Linked DNA regions of Homo sapiens. The protein of the gene in region 2 interacts with the protein of the main gene of each other region in a biochemical or structural test. Each region holds a gene or a part of one and is shown on either strand. Other genes may lie near its edges. The genes, in order: APBA1 and CACNA1B.

What was found.
Region 1: the proteins of CACNA1B (region 2) and APBA1 form a complex in vitro, tested with the Homo sapiens proteins (one study listed by IntAct).

The regions. Positions count from the first base shown.
Region 1 is NC_000009.12:69,652,960-69,669,371, forward strand, and holds part of APBA1 (amyloid-beta A4 precursor protein-binding family A member 1), read right to left. Parts: intron 1-16,412. UniProt on the Homo sapiens protein: Putative function in synaptic vesicle exocytosis by binding to Munc18-1, an essential component of the synaptic vesicle exocytotic machinery. May modulate processing of the amyloid-beta precursor protein (APP) and hence formation of APP-beta.
Region 2 is NC_000009.12:138,113,940-138,129,689, forward strand, and holds the end of CACNA1B (voltage-dependent N-type calcium channel subunit alpha-1B), read left to right. Parts: intron 1-438; coding exon 439-551; intron 552-1,612; coding exon 1,613-1,740; intron 1,741-4,006; coding exon 4,007-4,142; intron 4,143-4,712; coding exon 4,713-4,829; intron 4,830-6,225; coding exon 6,226-6,433; intron 6,434-6,691; coding exon 6,692-6,942; intron 6,943-7,529; coding exon 7,530-8,060; 3' UTR 8,061-10,680; downstream 10,681-15,750. UniProt on the Homo sapiens protein: Voltage-sensitive calcium channels (VSCC) mediate the entry of calcium ions into excitable cells and are also involved in a variety of calcium-dependent processes, including muscle contraction, hormone or neurotransmitter release, gene expression, cell motility, cell division and cell death.

The DNA.
Region 1 (16,412 bases), about 68 Mb from region 2:
ACACTCCAGCCTGGGTGACAGAGTGAGACTCCAACTCAGGAAAACAAAAACAAGCAAAAAAAAAACAAAAAAACAAGACTCTGTGTTGGCTACAAGAAACTCACTTCACCTATAAAGACATGCATAGACTGAAAGTGAAGGAATGGAAAAATATATTCCATGCAAATGGAAACTAAAAAAGAGCAGGAGTAGTTATACCTATGTTAGAGAAAGTAGATTATTTTAAAGTTAAGAATGGCTTAAAGACAAAAAAAAGGCCATTATATAATGATAAAGTGGCCAGTACAGCAAGAGGATATAACAATTCTAAATATATATGCACTCAACACCAGGGCACCCAAATATATAAAGCAAATATTCATAGACCTAAAGGGAGAGGTTGACTACAATACAATAATAGCAGAAGAGTTCAACACCCCCACTTTCAGCAGTGAACAGATCATCCAGACAGTAAATCAACAGAGAAACATCAGAGTTAAGCTGCACTCTAGGCCAAATGGACCTAACAAACATTTACAGAACGTTCCATCCAACAGCTACAGAATACACATTTTCCTCAACACCACATGAAGTATTTTCCAGGATAGACCACATGTTAAGTCACAAAACAAATCTTAAATTTAAAAAATCAGTCATATCAATAATCTTTTCTGATCACAATGGAACAAAACTAGAAATCAATAACAGAAGGAACTTTGGAAAGTATGCAAAATCATGGAAATTAAACAACATGCTACTGAATAATAAATGAGTCAATGAAGAAACGTAAATAGAAACTTAAAAATTCCTTGAGACAAATGAAAATGGAAATAGAACATACCAAAACCTACGGGATACAGCAAAAGCAGTTCTAAGAGGGAAGTTTAGACCAGGTGTGGTGGCTCACACCTGTAATCCCAGCACTTTGGGAGGCCGAGGCAGGTGGATCACTTGAGGTGAGGAGTTTGAGACCAGCCTGACGAACATGGAGAAACCCTGTCTCTAGTAAAAGCCAGGCATCTCCCGTGTAGCCGGGCGCATGCCTGCATGCCTGTAATCCTGGCTACATGGGAAGCTGAGGCAGGAGAAATGCTGGAATCTGGGAGGCAGTTGCGGTGAGCCGAGATCACACCATTGCACTCCAGCCTCGGCAACGAGAGCGAAACTCCATCTCAAAAAAAAAAAAAAAAAAAAAGAGGGAAGTTTATAGTAATAAATGTCTATATCAAAAAAGTAGAAAGATCTCAAATAAGCAAGCCACCTCAAGGAACTAGAAAAATAGGAACTAAACCCAAAATTAGTACAAGAAAAGAAATAACAAATATCTGAGCAGAAATAAACAAATCCTTAGCTAGACTTACTAAGAAAAAGAGAGAGAAGATCAGGTGCGGTGGCTCATTCCTGTAATCCCGACACTTTGGGAGGCTGAGGTGGGAGGATCGCTTGAGACCAGGAGTTCAAAGTTTCAGGGAGCTAGGATCACTCCAGGAATACTCCAGTTAGGAGCACTCCAGCCTTGGTGACAGAGCAAGACCCTGTCTCAAAAGAAAGCAAAGAAAGAAAAGAAAAGAATAGAAAACCTGAATAGACCAATAATAAGTAATGAGATTGAAGCAGTAATAAAATGTCCCCCATCAAGGAAAAGCCCAGGAACTGATGGCTCCACCACTAAATTCTACATAACATTTAAAGAAGAACTAATACCGATTCTTCAAAAACTATTCCAAAACATTGAAGAGAAGGGAATACTTCCAAAATCATTCTACAAGGCCAGTATTACCTTAATACTAAAACCACACAAGGATACAACGACCAAAAAGAAAACTACAGGCCAATATTCCTAATGAATATAGATGCAATAATCTTCAACCGAACACTAGTAAACCAAATCCAAAAACACATTAAAAAGTTCATTCATCATGATCAAGTGGGATTCATCCCAGGGGTGAAAGGATGGTTCAATATAGGCAAATCAATTAACATGATACGTCACATTAACAGAATCAAGGGTAAAAACCGTATGATCATTTTAATAGATACAGAAGAAGTGTTTGATAAAATGTAACATCCTTGATGATAAAAATGCTCAACAAATTAGGTACAGAAGGAATATATTTCAACACAACATGACAAAGGCCACGTATGACAAACCCACAGCTAACATCATGCTGAATGGGAAAATGTTTAAAGCTTCTCCTCTAAGATCTGGAAAAATATAAGAAAGTCCATTTTCACCACTCTTATTCAACATCATGCTGGAAGTCCTAGCTAGAGCAATTAGTCAAAGAAATAAAGGGCATCCACATTGGGAAGGAAGAAGTCATATTGCCCCTACTGGCAGATATGAATATATATACACATATATACACATATGTATGTGTGTATATATATATGTATATTCTCAAAGATCTCCCCAAAAACTATTAGAATGAGTAAGTAAATTCAGGAAAGTTGTAGTATACAAAATCAACATGGAAAATTAGTAGCATTTCTATATACCAATAACAAACTATTCGAAAAAAAATCAAGAAAGCAAATCCATTTACAATAGCTACAAAATAATAAATTACCTAGGTCTAAATTTTAGCAAGGATGTAAAAGATCTCTACAATGAAAACTATAAAACACTGATGAAAGAAATAGAAGACACAAATGAATGAAAAGATATCTCATGTTCATAAATTGGAAGAATTAATATCATTAAAATGACTGTATCTACAGATCCAACACAATCCCTATAGAAACACCCATGGCATTCTTCACAGAAATAGAAAAACAATCCTAAAATTCATATGGAACCACAAAAGACTCCAAGTAACCAAAGCGATCTTGAGAAAAAGAACTAAGCTAGAACAAAATTACAGTTAGATAGGAGGAATAAGTTCTGTTACATTAGCAGGGTGATTACAGCTAATAGCAAGGTATTATATATTTTAAGATAAGTAGAAAAGAGGATCTTGAAAGTTATCGCCACAAAGAAATCATAAAAGTTTCAGTGACTGACATGCTAACTACTCTGATTTGATGATTATACAATGTGCACATGTATTAAAGCCTCACACTGTATCCCATACATGTACAATTTTTATGTGTCAATTTTAACAACATTAATAAAAATAACACAACTTTAACACTACTACACACTTAGCAGAATACCTCAAGCTAAACAAATGGTAGGAAACCAGGTGCTATCACCAACGTGGAACCAACTACGATTCTCATAAACTGCTGTTGGGAGTATAAATTGGACAAAGTAGTCCCCACTTTGGAAAACCGGCAATATCTCTAAAGCTAAATGTATACCTGTTCTATGACCCCACAATTCCATTCCTGAGTATATACCCTACAGAAATCAGTGTATATGTAAACCAAAATAAACATATAATAATATTCACAGTAAAACAACCCTAATGTCCTTCAACAAAAGAATTGATAAACTCAGTATATTCACACAATGGATTAAACAGCAAAAAAGGAATGAATCATGAATTAATCTCTACAATATTAAACAAGAAGTCAGATGCAAAAGGCTACATACTATATGATTCCACGCAGATGAAGTTAAGAACAGGCAAAACTGCTCTATGGTGACAGAGGTCAGAGTAGTGGTTACCTTTCTGAAAGTGGTTGATATTGACTGACTGAGAAGGCATATGAGGGAGCCTCCCAGGGGCCAGAAAATGTTCTATGTCTTGATTCAAGTGCTAGTTATATAGTTTTTCAGATATGTGAAAATTTAGCAAGCTCTACGCTTGATATTTCTGTTTCTTCACTATTCAAGTTACATCGCAATTTAAAAACATCAAATATTAGATGAGAATTTGAGTTATTTATTATCACATTGGATGTATTATGTGACTAGTAGTCAAACTTTTCACCACTTAAGAATAACCGGGAGATCTTTTTTTTTTTTTTTTTGAGACGGAGTCTCGCTCTGTCGCCCAGGCCGGACTGCGGACTGCAGTGGCGCTGTCTTGGCTCACTGCAAGCTCCGCTTCCCGGGTTCACGCCATTCTCCTGCCTCAGCCTCCCGAGTAGCTGGGACTACAGGCGCCCGCCACCGCGCCCGGCTAATTTTTTGTATTTTTAGTAGAGACGGGGTTTCACCGTGTTAGCCAGGATGGTCTCGATCTCCTGACCTCATGATCCACCCGCCTCGGCCTCCCAAGGTGCTGGGATTACAGGCGTGAGCCACCGCGCCCGGCCTAACCGGGAGATCTAAGAGACCTGCCTAAAATTTTATTCCCATGGGGAAGAGAAGACAAGTCTGTTAAGTGGGTAGAAAGAAGCTGTAAGAGAAGAACAAGAGATGATGGCTATTTGCATCCCATTGAGTCCAGCCCATTCAATAAATGTGTTATATATAGAAGGCAGTGGATTTTGCTTGAGATTCCTTGAACAACAAATAGTGTTTTCTGAGCCTGCCAGTTATTACTTAGGTTTCTGTTTACTATTCAGTTCCAAAGATTAACTCTGATGTGATGACATGGGAACCATGGTTCACACTGACATCAGCAGTTTATTGACCTGTGTCTAGTGTTAATATCCAAAAACATTGTGAAAGACAGAAGTCCCCCTGCTTAGCCCAATGAGATCAACATTAGCCACTGGCTGACATTATCCAACTAATGATTACAACAGACTGTAACTATTCATTCTGACTAACATAGCACTTTGCTAGATAATACTTAGATTGGCTAATTACCAACTATTAAGCCTATTTTTTATGAAGTTATAGGAATATACTTACATATATATGCATATGTGTGTATACATATATATTTAAACATTTTACTACTTTAGCTTTACTTTAGATTCTACTCTAGCTTTTATTTTGGGTGACTCCTGGTTTAACGTGACAAATTTACCACCTTAATACCATCAATTATATATTTTTAATCTTTTCCTCTTCTTTTCCTCTTAAAGAGTATAAAGGTATACATCAGGTATAAATCCACAGAGAATGGAAGAGAGAATATTCACAAACAAAAGATTACAACACATTTTTCTTTGAGATGACTGAACTGTAGAACCCCAGGGATGCAGGCCTACCAAAGGATGGGGTGGAGAAGGCTCTGGAAACAGGAGGTTCACTGATCCAGAACAGCAGGATCCCCAGCCCTCTGCTCCACACCACACACATGTATCACTAGGAGCCAGCAGCTACTTCTCAGGAAAAAGACTGGAATGTGGAGATTCCCAGTGGAACAACCTAATAGCTCCCTTGGTTACCCTGTAGAGAGGCCTGCTGATGGACAATGTTGTCCTACTCAAGTCCTTTCTCTCTTTCTTTCTTTCTTTCTTTCTTTCTTTCTTTCTTTCTTTCTTTCTTTCTTTCTTTCTTTCTCTCTCTCTTTCTCTCTCTCTCTTTCTTTCTTTCTTTCTTTCTTTCTTTCTTTCTTTCTTTCTTTCTTTCTTTCTGTGTTTCTCTGTCTCTCTTTCTCTCTTTCTTTCTCTCTTTCCCTCTCTCTTTCTTTCTTTCTTTCCTTTTTGAGACAGAGACTTGCTTTGTCACCCAGGCTGCCACGATCTTGGCTCACTGCAACCTCCACCTCCTGGGTTCAAGCAATTCTCCTACCTCAGCCTCCTGAGTAGCTGGGATTACAGGCGTGCACCACCATGCCCAGCTAATTTTTTTTTTTTTTCAGTTAAGACAGGGTTTCACCATGTTGGCCAAGTTGGTCTCAAACTCCTGACCTCAGGTGATCCACCTGCCTTGGCCTCCTAAAATGCTAGGATTACAGGCATGAGCCACTGCACCTGTCCTCAAGTCCCTACTTTCAATGTGCTTTCCCACCCAACAGCCAGCACCTATGGCTCTTTTTGGGAGGGCTGCACTTGCTTCACCCTTTCATGTCAAGAGCCAGAAATACCTGAGAATTTATGTCCCCACCCAACAGACCCCCTCTCTTAACTGAAGACTGACAGGTATGGAGTATGAAACACCAACCCCATAGATTCAGGCAGGGACAACTCTGAGGCTGACTTACACTCCAGAGCTCCCCCACCCCACACAGGATCAGGCTGAAGCCCCTCTTTGCAGTATTTTGTTTGAATGAGAGCATACCCTTACTTGACTTCTTCCCCTTCCCTTCCCAGTTTTTCCTAGGAGCATCTCCTTAATAGAGCAGCACATATACACACAAACCCTCTTCTTGGTGTCTGCTTCTGAGGATTCTGACCTAAGACATCTGCAAAGCACACCAACTTATACAGACCTTCTGGCCAGCTTCAGTGTCACAGTCCTACATATGAAAAGACAATCAACGATAAGCAGACTGTGCTAAAAACCTCCAGCAGGGAAGGGAGTGATCAACATAAACAAAAAGATGTAAACACTGTAATTCCCCAAGTGGGAGAAGCAGGAGATGTGATAGGAGAGGGAAAAATTAAACTCAGAAAGAGTAAAAGATTCACTGTACAGATATCATAATAAATGACACCTGAATCATCCACTTTCATATGCACATTCTCTCTACTTCATCAAGGGGAGCCACATTCCACATGAGAAGCTGCAGACGGGTTGATAATTGCCTACCCATCACATCACCATGCAGTCCTCTCTAAGCCTGCCCTCTCCACATCACCCCATCGCCTCTGCATCCATCCACTAAAGGTAATTTTGAAAACAGTCTTTGCACTGCCAGTAAGTACCATGTTGTGTTTCACAGGGAGCAGCTTAGACATAATAGCAAACAAAATCCTGAGCCTCTCATCCTCCACTCTTCCCCAAGCAGGTTTCAAATACCTCACATGACTTAAATGTATAATGATATGCACTTTTAACACTGGCTTAAAATTCTGTCTTTAGGACTAGACATCATCTACCATAGCAGTAACAATTTATGTCAAGTCAAAGTATACTTTATAATTTATTTTACATGTGTCATGGATCTCTCTTCCAGGTTATGGAAAATTAATATATTTTGGCAGGCTAAAATACTTAAGCACTCAACAGAAAGCTGACTTAATTGTTCCTTTCCTTAACAAATTTTAATAAGGAGTAGATACTGTTAGTGATTTTGGTCCCAAGCTTTTAATATATTTATTTCTTCCCACCCCTTAACTACATACCCACGTGCACACACTTACACACAATCCTTATTATAGAGTAACATATTGATCATAGACTATGTGGAATACCACAAACAGCCCTGCCATAATTCCAGCATACAGTTTCTGTCCATTTTGAGAAGAAATGTCAATTTACATATGTTATAATAATTCCACTTCCAAGTCTATACTTATTAAGAAGAAAAACAGGAGGTATGTTCAAGGCTTTGCTCTTAGAGAGATGTGCATGATTCCTCAATACATGGTAGGGAAATACAAAGATAAAGTACATTCTATGAGGTCCTCTTTATTTATAGTCAAATGCATGGAGTTCTGGCCCCCATGTTAAATTTTGGGGAAAGCATATCACCAAGGGCTGCTGGCAGCTGAGGCATGAAACACTTCAGCCGGTTCAGAGTTCCCTATAGTGGCAGGATACCCAAGGGAGCAAAGCTAAACATCTGGCCACTTTAGTTATCATCTAACAAGCGCTTTTCATGCTGAAATGTTGGTTTTGTTTGTCTGTTTGCTTTTCCTCTCTGTCCTCCCTGACATTCTTTTCCTTTTATGGTTAATAACAGAGGGGGGAAATACTTTAAGGCAAGAATCTCAAAGCCTTATATTTAATCACAAAATCTTAACTCAATCATTCCCAAAGCTTTACTAGAGAATAGGTGGAATTTCCTTTAAAGATGAAAAAACAGGAAACATACAAAAGCAACAGATTTTTAATCCTGATTTACTCAATAAATATTTCTTGGGCATATAGAATATACATGTGGGGGGCATACTATACATATGCTATTATCTTTCTCAGTGTTAAGGGAGATGAAAAAATGAGTGTGTGGGTGGGTGCATATTTTGAAAGGACAAGAGAGATGGAAAAGATGAGCATGAGCTGCTGGAATCCAGAGTGGTACAAAGCACTGTGAGAGTTTAGATCAGGGGTCAGTAAACTGAGGTCCGTGGGACAAATCCATCCCACTGCCTGTTTGTGTACTGCCTTGGAGCTGAGAATGTTTTTTATGTTTTTAGATGGTTGCAAAAAGTTAAATGAGAAATCAACATTTTGTGAAGCAAAAATGATATGAAATTTGAATTTTAGCATCCATAAACAAACTTTGGTTGAAATACAGTCACACTAATAGGTTTACATATTGTGTACAGTTGCTTTTGCACTACAAGGGCAGAGTGGAGGAGTTGTGGCAGAGACCATATGGCCCACAAAACCTATTTACTACTAGCCCTAAACAGAGAAAGTTTGTCAACTTCTGGTTTAGAGGAAAGAGACACTAGCTATTAGAACTAGGTAGGGAGTCACTTTCGTTCAATGTCATGATGAAGGAAGTGAGACATCTACCTTACTTTTCTGTACCCTTTCATATTTTATTTGACCCCAGCGGCCCTGTGCAGGAAGAGATGGGAAGGGCAGGTTTCATCATTTCCCCTTTTGTAGCTGGAGAAGCTGAGGCTCAGACCAACCTGGAGACTTGTTCACTGTTGATGGCTAATTATGGCAGCACTGTATTCCAGCTCATTCTGAGTCCTTGCCACCCCACAGGGCCAAGAATGGAGAGATGTCGGTGCAACAGTACTATGGTCTGAATGTGGTTCATCCCCACAAAATTCATGTTGACATTTAATCCCCAATGTGGCAGTATTGGGAGGTGCATGGGTCATGGGGGGTGAATCTCTTATGAACAGATGAATGTCCTCCTGCAGTGATGAATGAGTTCTCACTCTTGCAAGGATGGAATAGTTTCCTAGACAGTGGATTGTTAAAAAGAATCTGGCTTCCTTGGTTTTTCTCTCCTTTCCTCTTTCACCATGTTATCTCTTCGCACACACTCGCTGTCTTTCCACTTTCCACTATGAGTGGAAGCAGCATGAGACCCTTACCAGATGCAGCTGCCTGGTCTTAAACTCTCCAGCCACCAGAATTGTGAGCCAAATAAACTTCTTTTCTTTGTAAGTTACCCAGCCTCAGGTACTCTGTTATAGCAACACTGAATGGACTAAGACAAACAGTAACACACACACACACACACACACACACACACACACAGACATCCCAAGTAGGATGAAGGCATCATAAACAAGAGAGTCAAGATGGGGCAGTGGGGATGGGAAGCTACTGCTGGGCCCAGAGGACAGAATAGACTCCAGGACCAGCAACTGTCTGGGCCCATTCCTGTGCCTAGACCTGAGGCAAATCCCCTTTGTCCTGTTTTGTAGCCACTGAGGAACCTCTGAGAACCTCAAAGTCCAATCTGCAATATAAGTTCTCTCCTGATGTGGTTATGAAGAGTAAATTAGGTCATTATGAGAAGTAAATGAGTTAGCTGTGTACAGTACTTAGCGCAATGCCTGACACTTTGTAACTTGTTTTTAGTCACTGGATGGGGAATCTGCTGAGCTTTTAAAAAAGGAATTTATGTGTACTTTGATAGCTAGCCTGCCATAAAGAACACAATCATACCTGAACATAAGATTAGGTTAAGCTTTCATATGACCTAATACTATGGAAACATTTCATCTGTAGAACAAATTCTAGCTCCTTTAGGAGAGAACTCTTCCAGGTACTAGCTCAGGGAAAAATGATTCTTATATTTTCAAGTTATTTGGAAGGGAAGTGGGCGTAGAAACTATTTTCACATCTGGGAAGAAATAATATTAGGTTAAAATTTAGAATTAAGTAATTTAACTAAACATCCAGAACTCTAGAGGCTAAGAGACAGCAGCTAGGAAGAGGGGCAGGAAGAGTGAAGGACAGGAAAGAATCGTGAGGAACCAGCTCAGCAAGGAGGTTGTGGCCCAGTGACTTGACACGGTCCCCACAACCCAAGAAAGCCACAGATCTAAGAACAAATCTATTCTTCTTACTCCACTTTCCCTTTTCCACACTAATGTAATTTCTTCTTTTGGAAACAAAATGTCTACTCAAAAATAAAGTTTCTCTCTGTGATTACTGCATCATTTGTCCATACCACCAAATATCCAAATATGCTAACAATTCAAAAAACGAAAAAACAACTTTTGACATGAAATTATTTCATACTATAAGAAAATAAACACTCTTCTGATAAATGTAATACAATACAGCAGTGTTTTCTAAACTGCATATTAGGGTTCACCAATGCAGAGATTACTTCAGTGGGTTGGCAAACATACAGAACAGAAGAGAATAGGATAGGAAGCATCAGGGTGGATTACACATAATAAAGGACAAGTATTGTTGAGTGAAACTTGTTTCAGTGATGTATGTGTGTGTGTATATGTGTTTACACACATTCATCTATGTTGCTAGCCTATCATCTAAATTGTGTTCTCACCAGGAATCATGGCCAAAAGTGTGTAAAAGCCACTGCAACAGAATGCAACCCACTTTAGTAAAGTCCAGTATAAAAGTCCAAATTCACTGAATAGCCAATGTAGGGGGTAATTATTCTTGTTAAGTGGAATTTCCTTAAATGACTCTAAGCTCGTCCTCTGCTTTTAAAATATGCTACAATTTACAAGAAAAAGGAATTTATACATACTTTGGCAATTATCCTTCTTTAAAATAAAGTGTGCCTGTTAATAAATGCAGAATTGATCTCGAGATACAAAATTTATCAATAGTCAGAAACATAACGATTACATTATTTGGAATGGTGGCCAATTAATTCCATTAGGAAATAAATCATTGCTGTATTTGCTGTATTTTTCATACAAATTGTATGCTAATTAATCCACATGGAACAGAAGAGGAGGCTGAAAAGGAAACTTAGTGTGTAGGGATTGGTTTTGCCACCATACCTTGACAACCTCCTGTGATCACTTTACATATACAAAAAGATGAGATTCTGTCCTCCAAAATGTGTATTTCAGAAAAGAGAAAGTTGCCTTATGTATAAATGCTTACAAAGTCTCCCATATTGTGGGGTATTCTCTTAATTACCTTCTTCTGAATGCCAAAAACCCTGTTACCTCCAAGATAACAGAAATTGAAAGCCATGTAATTCACTAATGCTGGATGTGACGGCAACTGATTTTAAAGAGAGAAACCATGAAAAAACATATTACCTGGTAAGACTGCAGATTTCATGAAAAGGAGTTGTGTGTTTCAGAGGTTACTTAAGAACTATTTGGAGAAGATAGCCGGAAATAAACTCAATCAACACAAGATAGGGATACTTCTGAAGGCTATGCAATTGAAAGAAGATAAATGACTGAATGAATACAGAGTAAAGGAGGCCATGATTTTAACACCAATTGAAGTAAATATTCCTGGGAAGGAGCTTTACAATTGCTTGTCTTGGATGTCTTTACACAAGACATACAGAAGTGCTGGGTTGCAGAGATCATAAATATACTCCTTTAGGAAGAAAGGATAAAACAAACGTTCTTACATTAAGTGAATGAGCACACAGGGTTTGGAATAAAGTTTGTGGTGGTAGCATCATACAGAAACTCAAGAAGTACTATATCTCAAAAAAGTTAGATAGAAATGAACATGACAAAAGTGGCCTAATCATGACAAAGACTCTAAAGTCAAAAAAGTATGTGAAGTATTTGAATAAATGATTTCATAAAATGTGAGAATGGAAGGATGTCATATTTCTAAATTAATAATTTTATATAATGTGACTTCAATTATATGAAAGTAAACTAATAAATTAAACATAAGTAGATACTTCACTCTTTGCCTATATTCCTAGAATATGCATATTCAAGTTGACATAAAGTCTTTTTATAAACGCTCTTGTTGGAAAACTGAGGGCCACCCTATAACAGAGCGTATCTTACACATGAGCATATATAGTACTCTGCACCTCAGATAACTGAGGGTGGCCAATAGTTGGCTTGTGAGTGAACAGAACTGCAGGCAGTTGTCACAATACATTAAAATCCCTAAATTAAAATAACTGCCATCAAACCAATTATTATCTGTTAAAAATTCTTTATGATACCTCTGTGCTGTGTTAAACAGGGGTCCCATGTCCACTTCTGAGTTCAGCTATAGCTGTATCGACAGTCTCCAAATACACTGACAGTTTCCCACTTCCACCTGGCTCTGCCTCTCTGCTTCTCTGCTCAAGAGCTTTCTTTGGTGTCTCTGGAGCTTGCTCAGGCTAATCTTAGCAGCCCTAAAGTACTGAAGATTTAATATCCCTAGGGAAATGGTGGATAAAGACCCCACTTTCTCCACTGCTTGGTGGACAATCCTAATGTGCAGTCTATATAATGCCAGCAGAGCCAAGCCTCAGCTGCCCACCGTGGTAACCTGCTCATTAACTCACCTCTTAATGGGCTTTCTTCCCTCTCCTGTGTCATTTTCTCCATTCTCTCACTTGTGCTTCTTGAGGTTGTCTCTCAGATAAACTATTCTGAACTCAAGTCCTCATCTCAGGGTCTGCATGCATAAACTGCTTTAGCATCCTATGGCAATTCTGTGTCCTGTTTGAAAAACAGCTACCTATCTGCAGAAATCAAGGTAAACGAGCTTTACCCTCATTCTTTACACCTGAGTTACTTAAATCTTTGGAAATTTCTCATCAATTCCTCTCCGTAAGTATTTGATAAACCCTTACTAATGCAGAGAGTCAGTCTGTGTTATAGAGTATACCCAGATGAACAAAACAAAGTTCTAGCCTCAAGGATCTTATACTTGAGAATGGAACATGAAACAAGGAAGAAGAAAAGAGAGCAATATTTAAAGAAGATTCAGGACACAGAAGAGATGTAAGTTCCAAGGAGCAGAACTACTTCCAGCTGACTAGTATTTCATCACTACCCAGACAGAATCACGCTTTGTTTTCTGATGTGATCTCGGCTCACTGCAACCTCTGCCTCCCAGGTTCAAGCAATTCTCCTGCCTCAGCCTCCCAAATAGCTGGGACTACAAGCATGCGCCACCATGCCCGGCTAATTCTTGTATTTTTAGTAGAGACAGCATTTCGCCATGTTGGCCAGGCTGCTCTCGAACTCCTGACCTCAAGTGATCTGCCTGCCTCAGCCTCCCAAAGTGCTGGGATTACAGGCATGATTGTTTTCTAACTTAAATACATTTGATTGAGGATATTCATCTTTATATAAACCCAGTACTGATTCATAGGTCAGCCCAAATACAGTAGATGGTAATACAGCCTTATGGGCAAACAATTGAAAATGAAAGGCAAAGCATTTTATTGTGAATTCCCTAAGTGACTGCTCCAGGTAAACCAAGGAAACCAATAAGGTTTCCCTGCTGTCCCTTGAGGATGCCAAACATGTTCTTATCCAGCCTTTTCATTTTTGATATCCTCTCTGCCTAGAAGACCCTTCCCCCAAATATCTGCAGGGCTCACTACTTCACATCTTTCAGCTCTTTCTGCTTAAGGTCTTCCCTGACCATACTATATAAACTAATGTCACCCCCCACCCACCCACTATCATCAGTCCATTGCTCTCTCTCTTTTATTCTTCGTCATAGCACTTACCACCTGGCATATTATGTAATTACTTATTTATTTATTTTTAATCTCCTTCCACTAAAAGTTCTGTGATATTAAGGACATGCCTCCCCCCACCCCATATTCCTTGCACCTAGAATAGTTTCTGGCCCAGAGAAAGTGTTCAATGAGTGTATGTTGAAGGAATGAATAAATTTCATCATTAAAACCTCAAAATCACCACTCATTACAGTTGAAGTTCCATAAACTCACCTGGAATCATGACATAATCCCATAACTCAAGGATCTAAAGGGTTCACAATCATTTTGTGAAAAATGTGGGGTTTTTAAAAATAAAGCTTCAATGTATATATCAGGTATGAATAAATAGTTTTAATGCTATCATAAACTTGCACAGGCCATAAAAGGCAACTCATTCGATGTCCATTGTGTAAGAATGAAATCCTGAAATTTAAAATTTTAGATACTGTTGCTAGCTTACTTAAAAAAAGTTTATTCATGTATTCATGTGACAAATGTATATTGAATGCATATGATGGGTATGGTATTGGGCGAGGTGCTATATTTGATTTTTCTTTTGAAAACTGACTTTACATGTACGTCACTGTAAAACCATATTCTACCATTACAGATAGAAAAAGCTCATCCTTTAAAAAAACACTTACATTTTTCCCCATTGTTTTACTATAAACTTCTTAAAATTTAGCTCAGATCTCTGAGAGAGAATATTTACAGGAAATACAAGTGGAGTCTTTTATTTGGATAATTTTAAAGGTAAACATTCTCCTCTTTTTACTGCATTTAAGGGAATGAAGAACCACTGTATTTAGTGAGATTAAATGCTCACTATACAAAAATTACTTAAGTAGTTGTCAAACTCCAATTATATAGCGTTAATTGGTTTCACTACAAATTCCTGCTTTTCAAACACATGAGGTCCTCATGGTTGGGTAATGATCTTTTATTCACTCCTAATTGACTCACTGCTCTGTTTCCACAATGCCCACAAGTCTTTGTCATTCTACTCCTGGCTTCAACCTGCCCACCTCTCTTTGACCTCACTTAAAAGACTGTGGCCAAATTCCTTTCTTTCCACCTCAAAATTCCTATGCTTCTGTCTCAAAAGAATCCTTCCTTTGCTTTCATCTAGTATCCTCCCATCTTCTTGAAGACTTAATTCCCTCAATTGAGCCTCTCCCTTACATTTTCAATCTCTTTTTCCCTCAATGGATTGTTCTCCTCAGCTTATAAAGCAGGCTCAAGTCTTCCTATACTAAAAATACCACTTTCCCTCTACTACACCATTGTTGTGATATATCATACTCTCTCTCCTTCTCTTTTATCTCCCAACTTATTGAAAATGAAGTCTGTTTTCACTGCTTTCCATTTCCCTTCCCCCACGCCTCCCTTCAACCCTTGCCCCTGGCTGCCACTTCCACCTACCACAAAGACAATCAAGGAAATCCAAGAGTCAAATCCAATGGCTTTGCCTTGGTTGCACCGTCACCCATGGGGTGTGCTGTGTGAGTGACAGGGGCTCTCCTCACCCCTTCCAGCTTCCATGACACTGTACCACTTCACTTCCATCATTTTTCTCCAATTGCCCCTTGTTTAACGTGGTTCCTGTCCTCTTCTTTCTCTTTCCCCTCCAACATACAGACATCCCTCAAGGATCCTATCCTTACTTTTGCTTCTTCTTTCTTCATTTTCTTTATCAGTGATTCCTGGGATATGAAAATCGCTCCTAAGCAGATGACCTACAAATCTCCTGGTAGCTCTAACCTCCCTCTGTATTCTAGTCCCTTAACTTGGACAAGCCTGTCATGCTCAAAAAGAAACTTCTCTCCTCTTCCTTATCCTCTGTTATATCTTCTTTCTGAAAATGACCCAACTGCTCTCTCAGCTAAGCCTGACAATGATCTTTTGGCCTCCCTTTTCCCTTCCTCACTTTCCAGTGACTGTTCAAGCTCCTCAGATAATTCCCGCACACCACCTCTTAGGTGTGTTCCCTTCTTGCCTCCCACTGCCTCTTTCCATCTTTCCCCTACTTTGACAATAGAGTCTATCTGGTCTCCCTCCTGCCAGCCTTTTCCCATGTCATTCCATCCAACATAATACTACAAAAGTATTGCCCCAAAGCACAGTTCTGATACTGTCAATCTTTCTCCTCACAAATCTTCTATAGTTCCCCAGTCCTTACTGAACAAAATCCACACTCCTTAGCTTGGCGTACAAGTTGCTCCACCACCTTGAACAAACCTCTCTTTCTTGCTTTATCCCTCATTACATCTCTTGGCATTCCTAGCGCTTCAGCCAAAGCACACCATTTTTTTGTTTCCTGTGTAGGCATACACCTTCCACTGCCAGGCCTGTGCTACACTGTTCCTCCCCCAAGCATGCCCTTCCTTCTCTGCCAACCCAAATGCCACCTTAATCACAGCTCAAATGCTATATCCCATGTAACCTTCCCTAATTCTTCCATCAGAAGTCACTTTGTACCCTGTGAACTCCCACAGCTCTGCAGGAATACTGCTTTTTCAGCACTTAATCATTTTTCACTATTTTTACAGTTAGTAACATATTTCCTCTTTTCTCCTTCTAGATCATGATCCACCTCTGGCCAGGATCTAAGACTTAGCATTCTTTGAACCTCCAACCCTTCTCAACATTCCCTGTCCCCTATCCAAAGGTACAGTGGATCTGAGATGCGGGAGGCAATTAACAAATGTTTGCAAATTAATTATTGTAACCCAGAGAGTTAACTTCAGATTTTACGGCTTGAAATTCTCTCAATTTTAGCAACAATTACTTCTTCTTTCTAGGATAAAAGTCCTATCTCCCCAAGGTACTACAGTTAATTCCTTTTGGCCCCAGAGGTCAATTTTCAAATATCTCTTACCCCTAAGTCTTCCGAAACAAACAAACACAATAACAACAAAACAAAAC
Region 2 (15,750 bases):
GTGAGGGAGCGCCGGGAGGTGCCCAACTCCTCCTTGTGGGAGACGTGAGGGAGCGCAGGAAGGTGCCCAACTCCTCCTTGTGGGAGACGTGAGGGAGCGCAGGAAGGTGCCCAACTCCATCTTGCTTTCTGGGGAGGAGACACAGGAAGGGCCCTGCATTAAGCAGGTGGGGATGGCCTCAGCCCGGTCTTGAGAGGCCTCAGGAGGAGTCAGGGCAGTCAGGAGGGCCAGGTCAGCATCTGGAGGAGCCCTAGGTAGGCCAAACTCCTGGTGGCCGAGCCCCATGTTCTGCCTGAGAGCCCTCTGTCCCAGTGCATTTCCAGGAGTCTTTGTGGGGGGCGAGGGAGGGGCGGCTGTTTCCTCACCTTACTTCCATACCTTGTTTCCGTGGATCCTCTGCCCCCTTCTCCGAATCTCAACTCCTGTGTTCTTTTCCAGCTGATGAGATGACAGTGGGGAAGGTTTATGCAGCTCTGATGATATTCGACTTCTACAAGCAGAACAAAACCACCAGAGACCAGATGCAGCAGGCTCCTGGAGGCCTCTCCCAGGTAGCTGGCGGCCCTCAGTTTTCCAGGAAAACTGTGATGCCTCCGAGGCTCTGGCATCCTTCGGGGGGTTGACGACGGGGGAGATGCACACCATTCTTGGAAAAAGTATCTCAGAAGGAAGATGAAAGATTCTTGCAGCTACCTCTCTGGCCCCCAGAGTCAGAAACTACACACAGCCTTTATGCTTTCCATGAGCTGGCGGTACTGGGCAGCTCCTGACATAGAAAGTCAGCACTCAGGGCCAGAAGTTGAGGGCTGGGCTGGGCAGTGTCATGGTTGTTATGGGGTGGAAGAGAAGAAGATGTGAAGACCATTTGAGGAGGATTGTTTGGAGAGGTGAAAGGAGAACTGTTTTCCCTTCACACAGAGAGCAAAGAAATTCAGATAGGTACAGGATCATTGTCTGTTCTGCTCTTGCCTTTGACTGAGATGATTTGGGGACCCATCTTCCCGATGTCGTCCTTCCCACACAGCCGTGTCTTCGGTGACCATATGTAGTCTGTCTGCTGGAAAATTGTCTAGATGTCCAGGGCTTCTGGGGACATTGACCTAGTCCTCAGATGGAGAATATGTGGTGCTCAGGCCACACCTTCCATTCTCACACCTGGGGTAGACATCACTAATCCATGCAGCAGTCTTCCCCAGCCCTGAAATCTCGGAATTTTGCTCAGCCCAACCCTAACCCTAACTCCTACCAGCCAATTCAAGGTGATGATTAGATGGAATATTGTTGCCACCTGTAATCTGGTCCAATCCCCTAGTTGTGTAGACAGGGAAACTGAGGTTTTGAGAGGTGACATGGCTTTCCTGAAGTCACTGACAGGCAAGGTTTTGAGGAGATGCTGTAAGGGTCCCCTGGCTTGCTTCACTGTTTTGGTCACATGCTCATATTTAGGGACATATCAGGGAAAGTAAGCGGCCCCTTGCTAAGGGGAAAGAGCCCTTAGGCTGGGCTTGAACATGACCTGGCTTTTGCCCCATGCCACATGGTCAGAGCAGGTCACAGAGGCCACATTGCAGGCCCATTGGAGCTCTTTCCCTTCCCTTTGCCTCCTTTGCAGATGGGTCCTGTGTCCCTGTTCCACCCTCTGAAGGCCACCCTGGAGCAGACACAGCCGGCTGTGCTCCGAGGAGCCCGGGTTTTCCTTCGACAGAAGAGTTCCACCTCCCTCAGCAATGGCGGGGCCATGTGAGTATCCAGATGCAGGACATAGCTGGACAGGAGGAGGTCCAAAGACAGTAAAGGGGGAAGCAGACATCCCATTTCCTCAACCTCCCTGGCCCTCACTTCCACTGGCCTCTGGGTTCACCAGCTTGGAGGCACCTGAGGGGCGTGTCTGCCATCCGACCCTGCACTTGGGCCCTTAGCAACCCTCCAAGGACAGAGAGCCCCTAGGCCACATCTCAGTTCTCAGGGGCTGGCTTTGCTACAGATGCTTGTTGTACTTGCTGCCTGAGAGCAGTCAAGGGCTCTTCCTTTGCTGGGTTTCTGTGGCAGACTTTAAAATCGTTTCCTGTGACATTAGACAGGTGCTTCATCGAACCCGCCTTCCTAACAGCACTTAGACCACCACGTCCCATTCCCAACACACGCACCTGCTTCCCTTTCAGACAAGAGGCCCCTGCCCCTGCTCCTCATCGGCCCTCCGTGCCAGCAGACGCTGAGATTCCACCTCCATCTCCCACCCCTTTCTGTCAATGGCCTTCTACTGCTCTGATCTTTCTAACCCCGTAAGGCACTTTTCCTCTCAGATCTCCACTTTGGTACTGATTTCTGAAGCTGTTATATTTTGTAAAGAAATTGGTAAGGTTCTTTTGTATCACTTAACTCTTGCCACAATATTTCCGGGTAACAAATCACCCAGAAGCAGGTGACTTACAAGAACCATCACTTTTTCCCACTGTGGCCCAGAAAAGTGTGCTCCCAAATCTCAGGACCCAGATCCTGGGGGCTGACTCCCGAGCCGCTGGCAGCCCCCCATTCCCACACTGCTTTCAGCATGCTGTTGAAAACCTTCCTTGCATTTAAAGTCCTGATTCTGACTGTATGTGCAGGTGGGAGGAGATAGTGAGGTGTCTGGGGTTTATCTAAGCCAGGCTTTCAGCAGGAAATTGAGCTTCTGTTATTTCTGTGATGGTAGTTTCTACCTAAATCAATTACAACTCCAAGTCAGAGAGCACCCACTCAGACTGGGTCTGGTGAGGGTATTTATTGAGCCATTTAGTGAGCGGGTTGAGCACACCTCTGGCCTTGGACGTGGTGTTATTTCAGGGTTAGCGGTGCATTAGGAGCCAGCTCCGGTTCTCCTAACCACCCCTCCTCTCAGCACCAGCCTGCCACTGCGGCCGCTCTGTGCCTGGTGCCAGCAGGGGCTGCAGTGCCCCAGACAGCATGGAAGGAGAGCTGCTTGCAACTCTCAGAAGACAAAGGATGGGGCTTCTCAGAAGCCCCAGCAACCACCAGTGTGTCCTTCTGCCATCTCTGCGTCCACTGCTGTGGTCAGGGTGTGGTCCATTTAGACTATCAGGCTCCAGTCTGAGCTCAGAGTGATCAGTGCCACTCAACCTGCATGACTAAGAACGTAGTCTTCAGTGTTTCACTGAATGTGAGAATGAGCACTCACCCGAACACATTCCACGCCAGTTGGGAGATAAGTGATGAGAAATACCAGTGCGGAAGTATCTCCGGGTGGGGCTGTTGGGGCAGGCGTATGGGGAGCATGTGTGGGGTGGCCTCCGCCAGAAGGCTGCACCCCAGCAGAGAGCCGAGGGATGGAAGGGCTCATTGTGGCTTGGGGGGGGGGTCAGAGAAGTAAGGAGGAGCCACCAGCAAGGGACCCCTGAGGGAGGAAGCCCCTAGAGGAGGAAGCCCAAAGAGTCCCGGGCGAGGCCCCCTACCCCCCGTCCCAGCCCGTCCCCTCCATGACAGCTTTGCCCTCATCTGTCCCAGCCTGTCCTCTCCATGACAGCTTCTCTTGCTGTCTGCTGGCATAGGCAGGACTTCTTCAGCTACTGTCCTAATGCAGGCTGTACACATGCGGCCCCACTCCTTCCCAGGATAGTCCTGTGTGGCAAGGACAACCCCTGCTCCCACTTCACAGATCAGCCTCTTGTCCAGAGGAGCGGGTGACGGACCCAGGCCCCCCTCAGACTTGAGCACTGTGGGCTGTAAGCTGGTGCTCTGCATCCTCTCTGCCACTCTGAATCCCTTCTTGCTCTGACCCTGTTTTGGATCCATGTCCTTTGATGAGGCTTTGCCTGGGTCCAGCGTGCACAGGCCACGTTGGGGCTCTTGTGCCCAAAGGAGGGCTCAATTCAGTCCAGAACAGGGTGGCCAAACCCCCTGACCTCTGCTGCATGTGTTGGAGACGCCTGGCAGGTTGAAGCACCAGGCTATTGGTAAGGCACCTGCAGTCTCTGACCCTACAGGAATCTGTTTGTCTTCTCTGCCACAGACAAAACCAAGAGAGTGGCATCAAAGAGTCTGTCTCCTGGGGCACTCAAAGGACCCAGGATGCACCCCATGAGGCCAGGCCACCCCTGGAGCGTGGCCACTCCACAGAGATCCCTGTGGGGCGGTCAGGAGCACTGGTGAGCACTCCCGGGGGCTAGTGAGACTGGGTTGGGGGATGTGTGAACAGGGATGGGGGATGTTTGAGACTGGGGTGGGGGACGTGTGAACAGGGATGGGGGATTTTGAGACTGGGGTGGGGAACATGTGAGACTTGGGTGGGGGACGTGTGAGACTGGGGTGGGGGATGTGTGAGACCAGGGTGGGGGACGTGTGAGACTGGGGTGGGGGATGTGTGAACAGGGATGGGGGGTGTGTGAGACTGGGATGGGGGATTTTGAGACTGGGGTGGGGGACGTGTGAGACTGGGGTGGGGAACATGTGAGACTAGGGTGGGGGACATGTGAGACTTGGGTGGGGGATGTGTGAGACCAGGGTGGGGGACGTGTGAGACTGGGGTGGGGGATATGTGAACAGGGATGGGGGGTGTGTGAGACTGGGGTGGGGGACGTGTGAACAGCAGTGGGAGTTAGGTGAGACTGAGATGGATTTGGGTGAGACCCCAGTGCCTCATGGAGTGAGTCCGGGGTGGGATCAGATGAGTCCGCGGTGCCTTGTGTGGTGGGACTAGGTGAGTGCTGTATCCACAGGCTGTGGACGTTCAGATGCAGAGCATAACCCGGAGGGGCCCTGATGGGGAGCCCCAGCCTGGGCTGGAGAGCCAGGGTCGAGCGGCCTCCATGCCCCGCCTTGCGGCCGAGACTCAGGTAGGTGGTCTGGGAGGGTCCAGGCCCTGGGCTGGGCAAGTGGGGGGTGGGGAAGTGGGGCTGTGGCTCTGGGCCTCCTGCAGGTGAGGAGAGCTGGGGTAGAGAGGCTGGGGTCCATGTGTGGAGCTCTTTGCTGAGGCAGGAGCAGGCACCCCGGGCAGTCCTGTCTGGGCGCCGACAGAGGTGCAGCCTGGACGCCTTCAGCCCCTGAGGCTTCTCCAGAGGGTGGGTCAGGTCCGGTAGAGGACAGCTGTGCCTGTTCTCAGCCTCCTATTAGGGGCCATGGGGCATAGGGGCCCCCACTCTGGCTCAGCCACGTTCTGTTCCTCCTTTCCGGGGCTCTACTCCCTGAGACAACCCCCACTCTCATCCAGAAAATTTCACCGACACCTCAGTCCCCTCTCCCGCCCGTGGTTCTGCGGAGGACCCTCCCTGCTCATGGGCAGTCCCTGGACTACTTTTCTACCCAGCTCCTTGCTGGGCTCGCCTCTTTCTGGGACATGCACACTGGATTCAGGAAGAGGAAGCTCTGGCCCCATGTGTTTCCCGGGGGAGGCTCCTTCCACAAGGACACTGGGAGGATCGCCCCTCCGAGGCCAATCTGGGAACACTGTGCCCCGGCCTCCGAGGCCTCGGAGGAGCTGCAGGGCCTCACCTGCAACATGAGCCTGCTTCAGTTGGCCAAAAGTGACCGGAGCCCCCGTGCCAGCCCTGTCCCTCGGCCGACCTGGGCTGTGGAGCTGTGGATCTGAACCTCGTCCGTGGCTCGTCTCCCATCCCACTGCTGTGGCCAGCAAACCCTTTTCCTCTCCTCACTGCCTCTCCTCCCTCTTAGGGTTTTCTCCTCTTCCCACCTGTCCTTCCTCTCTTGTCTCTTTCCCCGCCCAGTGGTACCCTCCTGGGTGCTGCCTGGTGGGTGGGTGCAGGCTGAGCCTCCCTGCAGCCTGTGCTGGGGCCTCCTCCTTCACACACGTGATGCATTGGCGGCTGTGGGTGAGTTTACCTGGGAGGGCCTACCCGTCCCAGGTGTCTTCACGGGTCCTGATTCTGGCCGTGGAAGCAGCTCGGGAGCCAGTCCACCCCAGACGCACCAGGCAGAGTGATCCCATTGCAGCCAGCAGAGGCGTCTCTGGTTTCCACTCAGGGTTCTTCCAACCAAGCCAGCCACCTCTCTCTTCCTGGCACGACACATGGGATGGGGCGGGGACTCAGGCACTGTCTGCCCCCAGCCTGCCCTCCTGGGCTACCATTTCAGGCCTGGGTCCTTCTGACTGTGAGACCAGGATGGGGGGCGTGTGGGCCTGCTGTCTGGCCTGCTCCACCACCCACTTCCATGCCTGCATTCCCGCTGACCCTGGTGCCTCCCCTAGGCCCACTCTCAGTCCTTTGCCCACAGCCCGTCACAGATGCCAGCCCCATGAAGCGCTCCATCTCCACGCTGGCCCAGCGGCCCCGTGGGACTCATCTTTGCAGCACCACCCCGGACCGCCCACCCCCTAGCCAGGCGTCGTCGCACCACCACCACCACCGCTGCCACCGCCGCAGGGACAGGAAGCAGAGGTCCCTGGAGAAGGGGCCCAGCCTGTCTGCCGATATGGATGGCGGTGCGTGCGGAGGGGCCCGGGGAGTCCTTCGGGGAGCTATGGCCCGAGTCAGGGGGTCCAAGCGGCCCATGGGGGACCCTCTTCCTTTGTGGGCCTCGTGACCCCATAACCAGCCAGAGCAGGGTGGGACTGAGGCCCAGGCCCTAACCCTCACCCTAGCCTCCCCTGGCACCACCTGAATTCTGTCCTGCTGGGCCCGGGGGTCAGGGGTCCCTGCCTTGGGCCTGGCCGTGCTAACTTCTTCTCTTCCCTGGCCAGCACCAAGCAGTGCTGTGGGGCCGGGGCTGCCCCCGGGAGAGGGGCCTACAGGCTGCCGGCGGGAACGAGAGCGCCGGCAGGAGCGGGGCCGGTCCCAGGAGCGGAGGCAGCCCTCATCCTCCTCCTCGGAGAAGCAGCGCTTCTACTCCTGCGACCGCTTTGGGGGCCGTGAGCCCCCGAAGCCCAAGCCCTCCCTCAGCAGCCACCCAACGTCGCCAACAGCTGGCCAGGAGCCGGGACCCCACCCACAGGTAAGAGGAATAGGTGGAGAGGTCAGGGCCCAGCTGCCTCTCCTCGGCCCAGCACCCCTGTCCCACAGGCTCCTGCCTCTCCCCAGGGCCTCGCTGCTGCCCTTTGTCATTCCCAGCAACCCAAGGGCCGGGCGCTCCCCTCTGTGCCCTGTCCCGGAGCCCACGTCTGCAGCCTACCCCAGCTGTGTTCTCATCAAGCTCCTGCCTGGGTCACCCTGGGACAGTGGTTCTGCGTCCTATCCACTTTCGGACCTGGGCCCCCAAATACTTACCTCTCTCTCGGTCACTTAACTCTCCTTCCCTGACTGTGGTCGTTGGGCTTTTGTTCTGTCCTTTTCCCTGGCCCCAGCCTGTCCCTTCCCATCACCTGCTCTCCCCAACCCCATTCCTGGGCCTGACCCTGACCATCGCCCTCCCCCGCACACAGGTGCCTGTTGCCTCCCTGGTCACCGCAGCCCGTTGTCCCCCATTGCCTCCCTCTCTCCTCCCATCCCCCCAGGCACCTGTGTGTGATGTGCTCTGTCTGTTGGTTCGGCTTTTTTTTTTTTTTTTTTACCTCTGATTTGTTCTGGTCCATTTTCATGTAGGGCAGTGGTTCCGTGAATGGGAGCCCCTTGCTGTCAACATCTGGTGCTAGCACCCCCGGCCGCGGTGGGCGGAGGCAGCTCCCCCAGACGCCCCTGACTCCCCGCCCCAGCATCACCTACAAGACGGCCAACTCCTCACCCATCCACTTCGCCGGGGCTCAGACCAGCCTCCCTGCCTTCTCCCCAGGCCGGCTCAGCCGTGGGCTTTCCGAACACAACGCCCTGCTGCAGAGAGACCCCCTCAGCCAGCCCCTGGCCCCTGGCTCTCGAATTGGCTCTGACCCTTACCTGGGGCAGCGTCTGGACAGTGAGGCCTCTGTCCACGCCCTGCCTGAGGACACTCTCACTTTCGAGGAGGCTGTGGCCACCAACTCGGGCCGCTCCTCCAGGACTTCCTACGTGTCCTCCCTGACCTCCCAGTCTCACCCTCTCCGCCGCGTGCCCAACGGTTACCACTGCACCCTGGGACTCAGCTCGGGTGGCCGAGCACGGCACAGCTACCACCACCCTGACCAAGACCACTGGTGCTAGCTGCACCGTGACCGCTCAGACGCCTGCATGCAGCAGGCGTGTGTTCCAGTGGATGAGTTTTATCATCCACACGGGGCAGCCGGCCCTCGGGGGAGGCCTTGCCCACCTTGGTGAGGCTCCTGTGGCCCCTCCCTCCCCCTCCTCCCCTCTTTTACTCTAGACGACGAATAAAGCCCTGTTAGAGGATGCGGCTCTCTCTGTCCCCTTCCTGTCCTGCCTTCCTGGGTCTCGTACCACACACCAGACCCTAAACCGCAGGCTGCTGTGTGTGGCTGAGAAGGACCCAGGAGTCCAAATCCCGTGTCCTGGGACTCAGCATCCAGCATGGGTGCTTGGAGCCGTTGTGAGGAGCTCTGCGTCCTGTGGGGAGCACCCTTCACGTGGCCGTGCGGCACAGAGAAGCAGGGCCCACCTGAAAGTGCGCCGAGACCTCGGGACGGAGGGGATGGGGAGGGGGACACAGTCGTGGCTTGTGCAGCCCGCCAGTGTCAGCGAATGCTCACTCAGGCAAGCTCTGTCCTCCCTGGACACCGTCAGCCCCACAGGAACCGAGCTGGGAAGTGTTCTTGCTGTGGTTGTGATTTTTAATTGCAACACCTCTCATTCTTGTCACTTCTATATACGTGATGTAGAAAAAATGGAAAACCAGAAAAATGGGGAAGGAAATGTTCACATAACTTTAAAAAATCAAACCTGTGAAAGAAAGATGTCAGCTTTTTGCCACGTGTCTTTGTGGCTTATGCGAGGAGACTCCCTGTGCAGCCCTGTCCGGTCCAGGTGGACGTAGACGGCCCCTGGCTCTGCTGCTCTTGACCAAGTGCCTGACCGCCAGGCCCTCACACCCAGGCTCCTGGGCACTGTGGTGTGAGGCGAGGCCTCGGGATCCATCACCGCAGGATGCTGTGAAAAGTACTCGCGATGGCAGCCAGGTAGCAAGCCCTTGCCAGTGGAGAGCACTGGATGTCATGGTGGCAAACAAGGCAGCCATTTGCTGTCCTCCTCCCACGAGTGGAAGGGGTTTCCAAGGAAGCCACAGGGCAGCTGACCACGTGCTTGTGTGAGGCATTTTCAGTCTGTTCTGCATATGATTCTCAGGGCACACTCTGTGGTATGTGAAATAGGTTTCCTTCCACATACAGCAGAAGAGAGGCAAAGGCTGGTAGGAAGGAGGAAGACATTGGCTGGGGGCTTGGATGTGGGGCCGTCAGGGCAGGAGGGAGGAAGCCCCAGCTGGAATGAAACTCAGAGCAAGTGACCGAGGGAGGACACGGCTCCTGCCACTGAGGCCGGGCACCTGATGCCCAGCACTGTCCTGGCGCCAGACACAGGGAGCAGGCAGTCAAGTGAGGTCTGACCCCCATGGCCACGCTCAGGAGAGAAAGACCATGCTCAGGACACTGTCCAAGGTGCACAAGATGCTGGGAGGTCCCTTGTTTGGTGAAGAAAGGGAGCATTTAGAGCAGTTGATGGTGGTGTGTCCTCCGTGTTCTGAAATTCCAGATGATCTGTGTTGGATTCTTGGCTTCTACCCCATGATTCTCCTCAAAGAAATTGTGTGTGATGTGTGTGTGTGTGTGTGTGTGTGTGTGTCTGTGTCACAGGAGATGCAGTGCCTGTACAGGTGTGTTCAGTGTGTGGATGTCATTAACCCATAGGGCTATGCAACAAAAGACACATTTAATAGAAGTAAAACACACAAGACCGCTGCCTGGTCTCGGGGTTCAGCATGATTGTGACCAAACCTTTTTATAGAATTTCCTTACCTGAAGGCACAACACTCTGAAACTTTAAAGATAACAGAGTATTTTATTCCAATAGAATAAACCAGGAATCTCGGACTGTGCATGTGATCACTGTGCTCCTGTTGCAAAGTAGAAGGATGTGTATTTTGACACTGACGTTTTGTCTCTTGTTCCCCAGCCCCCAGCCCATGTTATCTTGGGTGTCGAATGTGTCCATTCCATGCAGAACCACAGCCATTTCCCCAGGCAGTGTTGGGTCGAGAATCCACTTTTCTAAACCCACACAGCCTAGCTGGCTTGTCTAGACTCTTCTAGGCATTGGAATTGATGAAAACTACAGGGAGCGGGGAAAGGAGACATTATGTCTTGTTTTCCTGACTTTGGGTTTTGTTTCTCACTGTGTCTTCTCCGGCTATCATATATGTCCCCTGAATCTCATAGTGAGCTGCCAAATTTGAAGTGCATCACCCAGTTGTCTGCATCTGGAACCAGTCAAGCAGTGGCTGTAGTTTGAACAAGTTATGTGTGCATGTAACATATATACATATATACATATATACAAGTATGTGCATGATAATGTATATCTTCGTACTTTTTGATACAATGTATTCATTTGTTAATTTTTAATTATATTTGATATAAATCAAAGGTTTGTTGCAAAACTTTATATTTAAGAAGTGTTAAAAAAAAAAAAAAGTCCCAACCATGCAACACAACTGGGACCTACTTAAAAAGAAATTCTGTGATTGACTAGTTTGCTGCCTGAGTCATATTTATCAGCCAAACTTTGGATTCTGCTGTTGTTTCTACAATGACATTTTGTATGAAGCAAAGTCCTTGAATTAAAATAAAAACTTAGCAAAAAATCAAAAACAAAACCCCACCATGCTGCCATTGGTATATGCAAGGGTGTGGGCCTGGGGTGCACTGCTAGGAGGGGTCAGAAGAAAGTGAGAACTGCAGTTTGTTGTTGTTGTTGTTGTTTTGTTGTTGTTGTTGTTTTTTGACAGAGTCTTGCTCTTGTTGCCCAGGCTGGAGTGCAGTGAGGCAATCTTGGCTCACTGCAACCTCTGCCTCCCGGGTTCAAGGGATTCTCCTGCCTCAGCCTCCAGAGTAGCTGGGATTACAGGCGTACACCACCATGCCCATCTAATTTTTGTATTTTTAGTAGTGACAGGGTTTCACCATGTTGGCCAGGCTGGTCTCAAACTCCTGACCTCAAGTGATCCGCCCACCTCAGCCTCCCAAAGTGCTGGGATTACAGGCGTGAGCCACCATGCCTGGCCTGCAGTTTGTTTTCAATGCAAGTGTGGGATCAGGTTTTGAGAGTGTGGTGAGGATCAAGGGAGGCACTTGGCAGGAGGAGGCAGATTCAACTTCCCTGGGGATCAGGGTTAGGGTTGGTTAAGATTACAGTGGTGGGTTAGGGTTGGGGTTGGGTAGAGGAGGTTCTGGGAGGCTGTGTGAGTTTGGGGCACAGAGCTCCTCTTAAGATGCCCCAATAATCATTCGCTCTGCTGTTAAAATGTTAGGATATTGCTAGCTACATGCTGATAAGGACAAAGGGGACATCCTTAAGAGAAACCTGGCACCATAAGTACAGATTAGGGCAGAGAAGGACATTCGAAAGAGATAGGCAGGCACAGTAGGTACAGACATGACCACTGTAGGACCTTCCTGGAGTGGCAGGAAGGAGCCCAGCCCCAGCAGTGGAATCACACTGATCACTGCACATATGTGTCAGCCAACAGTGAGGGGGTCCCACAAGCCTGGGTGGGGCAAGTCAGGGATCTAAGGAAGGAGCAGGAAAACCAGACAAAGAAAAGAGGTGGAGACTTGAGGAATGTGAAGAAGTCCAACATAAAACTCCCTGCTCAGGACCCTGGGGCTGTGTTCCTGCAGATCAGCCCCACTTCTCCCTTGAGGCATACTTATTTTTTCTACAATAAGCTCTTTACACTATATTTCTTTTCAATGAAGTTATCTGCCATCTTTGTACTGCCTCTTGGTGAGAATCTTTCTTTCAAGTTAGACAAGAACTGGGACATCAGGTCTCCCCAGTATTAGCTCCATTTCAGTTTGAATTTGCAGAATTGATAGTGCTGAACAACCTGCACTCCAACTTTAAGTGGTGTAGGAAGAGGCCAGCAGGGTCAGACCCTGAAAACAGACCAGCCACGTCTCCCAGGTGGACGCAGCGGGTTCTCCACGAGCGTGACTTGGGGATTTACGGCACTGAGACCGTGCTACCCACCCCCCCTTAAAAATCCCTCGTGGCTCCCAGTTGCCCTGAAGGGGAATCCCAAACTCTTCAGAGGCAGCACATGCTGGTGGGTGAGAGTTGGGAGCCTGAGTCCAAGTTCCAGCCTGGCTGCTATCGGCTGTGTGACCACTGGCAACTCGCCTAACCTCTCTGGGCCTCACGGGCTCGTTGGAGGATGTGGTGAGAGAATGACCGAGATGAGCTTAGCACAGTGCTGGCCACACTGTCGCTGTTCAATGCCAGGTGGCTGTGGCAGCAACAGGGCCCTGCAGTGTCTCCAGCCGCCAGCAGGGTGCGTGCCGCCACTACACTGGGAGCAAGAGGGCCCTGCAGTGCCCTGGCCGCCAGCAGGGGGCACGAGGCCATGACACCGTGAGCAAGAGGGCCCTGCAGTGCCCCCGGCCGCCAGCAGGGGGCGCAAGGCCATGACACCGTGAGCAAGAGGGCCCTGCAGTGCCCCCGGCCGCCAGCAGGGGGCGCAAGGCCATGACACCGTGAGCAAGAGGGCCCTGCAGTGCCCCCGGCCGCCAGCAGGGGGCTCAAGGCCATGACACCGTGAGCAAGAGGGCCCTCCAGTGCCCCCGGCCGCCAGCAGGGGGCGCAAGGCCATGACACCGTGAGCAAGAGGGCCCTGCAGTGCCCCCGGCCGCCAGCAGGGGGCGCAAGGCCATGACACCGTGAGCAAGAGGGCCCTGCAGTGCCCCGGCCGCCAGCAGGGGGCGCAAGGCCATGACACCGTGAGCAAGAGGGCCCTGCAGTGCCCCGGCCGCCAGCAGGGGGCGCAAGGCCATGACACCGTGAGCAAGAGGGCACTGCAGTGCCCCGGCCGCCAGCAGGGGGCGCAAGGCCATGACACCGTGAGCAAGAGGGCCCTGCAGTGCCCCCGGCCGCCAGCAGGGGGCGCAAGGCCATGACACCGTGAGCAAGAGGGCCCTGCAGTGCCCCGGCCGCCAGCAGGGGGCGCAAGGCCATGACACCGTGAGCAAGAGGGCCCTGCAGTGCCCCCGGCCGCCAGCAGGGCGTCCACACCGGGCCGAAGCGAGGGTGAAGCCCGCGTCCTCCTCGGCACAGACCCGGGGGGCACCGCCTCGCTTTGGGACAACTCGAGGCCATGGTGAGTAAAATCCTTCCTGTTTGCAGCCCTGACTACTGAGGGTTAGAGACCAGTAAGAGGGGTCGGTGTGGGAAACTGGAAACCAAAAGCCCCTCTGAATCCTGAGCACTGAGGTTCTCCCCACCCAAGGCGAGGCGGGCGCAGTGCGAGGTCTACACCGCGGCCTTGGAACACAAATGGAGCGTTCCTAATGCAGATATGCCTCCCGAAATACGAATGTGACACTCGCAGTGCTCAGGTAACAAACACCTGTAATGCTAATGCGCTGCCTCAATACAAAAATGTTAATATGAAACCCCGTGCTCCCCACACGGCCCCGCAGTCCCCGCTCATAATAATCAACACTGACATAATCAACACAAACGTAGCCTCCAGCTGCTCACAGCTGCTGCTGAGCTGGAGCTGCCTCGGGCTTGGCCTCCACAGTGGAGCTTGTTGTCGTATCTGCTTCACGGACGTGGAATTGACACAGTTGTTTTAAAAAGTAGCTTACTTCCCAATAATTCCATACTTTCAGGAAACTTGCAGCGGTAGTGTGGAGTTTTCTTTCTCTTTTCTCTCAGATTCCTCAGCGGTTGTTGCTGAGCCAGATCTGCATCTCACAGAAAACACCCCAGTGTTTTTCACCCAAAACAGGGACCCCTCCCAGGTAAGCGCCAGGTGACCCCAGCACAGGAGGCCACGTTTCTACCTGAGGGTCGTGTCCGCAGGCCCGTTTCACTTCACAGCCATCACGGCTGGGTGGAAAATGTCTCTTTCCATCTGGGTCCAGTTTTCCTTTTCTGGAGCCTTCGCAGAGTTGAAGAGCAGAGCTGCCCCCAGCCTGGGTCTGCACAGCGGTTCCCCCTGGGCAGATGCAGACGCCGCACTCCAGGTGGGAACTCGCAGCCTCTGGCAGTGCTCTGCACAGCGAGTTCCCCGGAGGAGCACAGACCCACCCACACCCCACAGAGACCTCAGGGTGATTGCGACAAAACTCTCCTTTACAAACAAGTCTCATCCCATCACTCTTCTTATTTAACTTTAACGATGGTTTCCCACTGGCATCAGAACAGGGGTCGCAGAACTGACCTGGCCCCCAGTCCCTGAGCGCTCCCACCTGCTGCCCTCTCCCGCCCAGCCCAGCCCAGCTGCCTGCGTTGCGGCCTCCACCTGCAGGGACACAGCAGGCTCTCGGGAGTCTTGGGAACTCTATGCACATCCAACACCCTCTTATCAAATACTCTTAAGATTCTGTCTACCTAGATCCTTCAAGTCACAGCGGTTATGATGTCTAACAACACAAATGTTCTGACGTGATTTTTTTAGACCAAAAAAAAAATGTTTGGTAGATCATATGTGAGAATCACCCTTAATTTATAAATCAAGGAAATAGATACATAAAAGCAGAGTCCATATTTGGGATAATCAGTAAAGAAAAATAAAATCTCAATGCAGAATGAAAGGCAGAGGGCACCATTGATCATTGAAATTTCATAAGAGTTTACTGGACAGAATATTACCTTACTATATTCTCCAGCCCTGTGTGTGTGTATGTGTGTGTATATCACACATATACCAGTTGCAAAAAATTTCAGGTTTAAACACTCATGTTTGCTTTTTTTTTTTTTTTTTTTTTTTTGAGATGGAGTCTGGCTCTGTCGCCCAGGCTGGAGTGCAGTGGTGTGATCTCAGCTCACTGCCACCTCCACCTCCCGGGTTCAAGTGATTCTCCTGCCTCAGCCTACTGAGTAGTTGGGATTACAGGCGCCTGCCACCATGCCCGGCTAATGTTTGTATTTTTAGTAGAGACTGGGTTTCACCATGTTGGCCAGCTGGTCTTGAACTCCTGACCTCTGGTGATCTGCCTGCCTCAGTTTCCCAAAGTGCTGAGATTAGAGATGTAAGCCATCTCGACTGGCCTACTCATGTTTACTTCATTAGTCAATACGGTTGATTAAGAAGTTAGGGTTAGGGTTGGGGTTAGGGTTAGGGTTAGGGTTAGGGTTAGTTTTAGGGGTTAGGGTTAGGGTTAGCTTTAGGGGTTAGTGTTGGGGTTTAGGGTTAGGGTTCGGGTTTGGGTTTGTGTAGTGTTAGGGCTAGGGTTTGGGTTAGGAGAATTGCTTGAACCTGGGAGGTGGTGGTTGCAGTGAGCTGAGAGTGTGCCACTGCTCTCCAGCCCAGGCGACAATGGGAGATTCCGTCTCAAAAAAAAAAAAAGGATAGTAATACCTACTTTTAACAGTCATGAGCAACATTTTTTTTTAATGTGGGTCACTTCTTTATTTTTCTGATTGCTAGAGCCATGTCTCAAATGCAAACATCCTCGTGCTTACTTCATGCAGCTTCAGACTCGCTCTGCAGACGAGCTGATGACCACCTTCTACAAGTGCTGCAATTCTCAGGGTGGACACTGCTGTAGGGATTAGGACTAGGATGGCCCAGCTGCTTCAGTGTGTGCTTACCTTGTCCCTTGGGGTAGATGCTTAGCTGGCAGTGTGAATCGTGTATCCTGAGGGTCTTTGCTGGTGTGGTGGAAAGACAAACCTTTTGAGGTGAAGAGCCAGGGTGTCAGGAAATGTGGCCTATCTG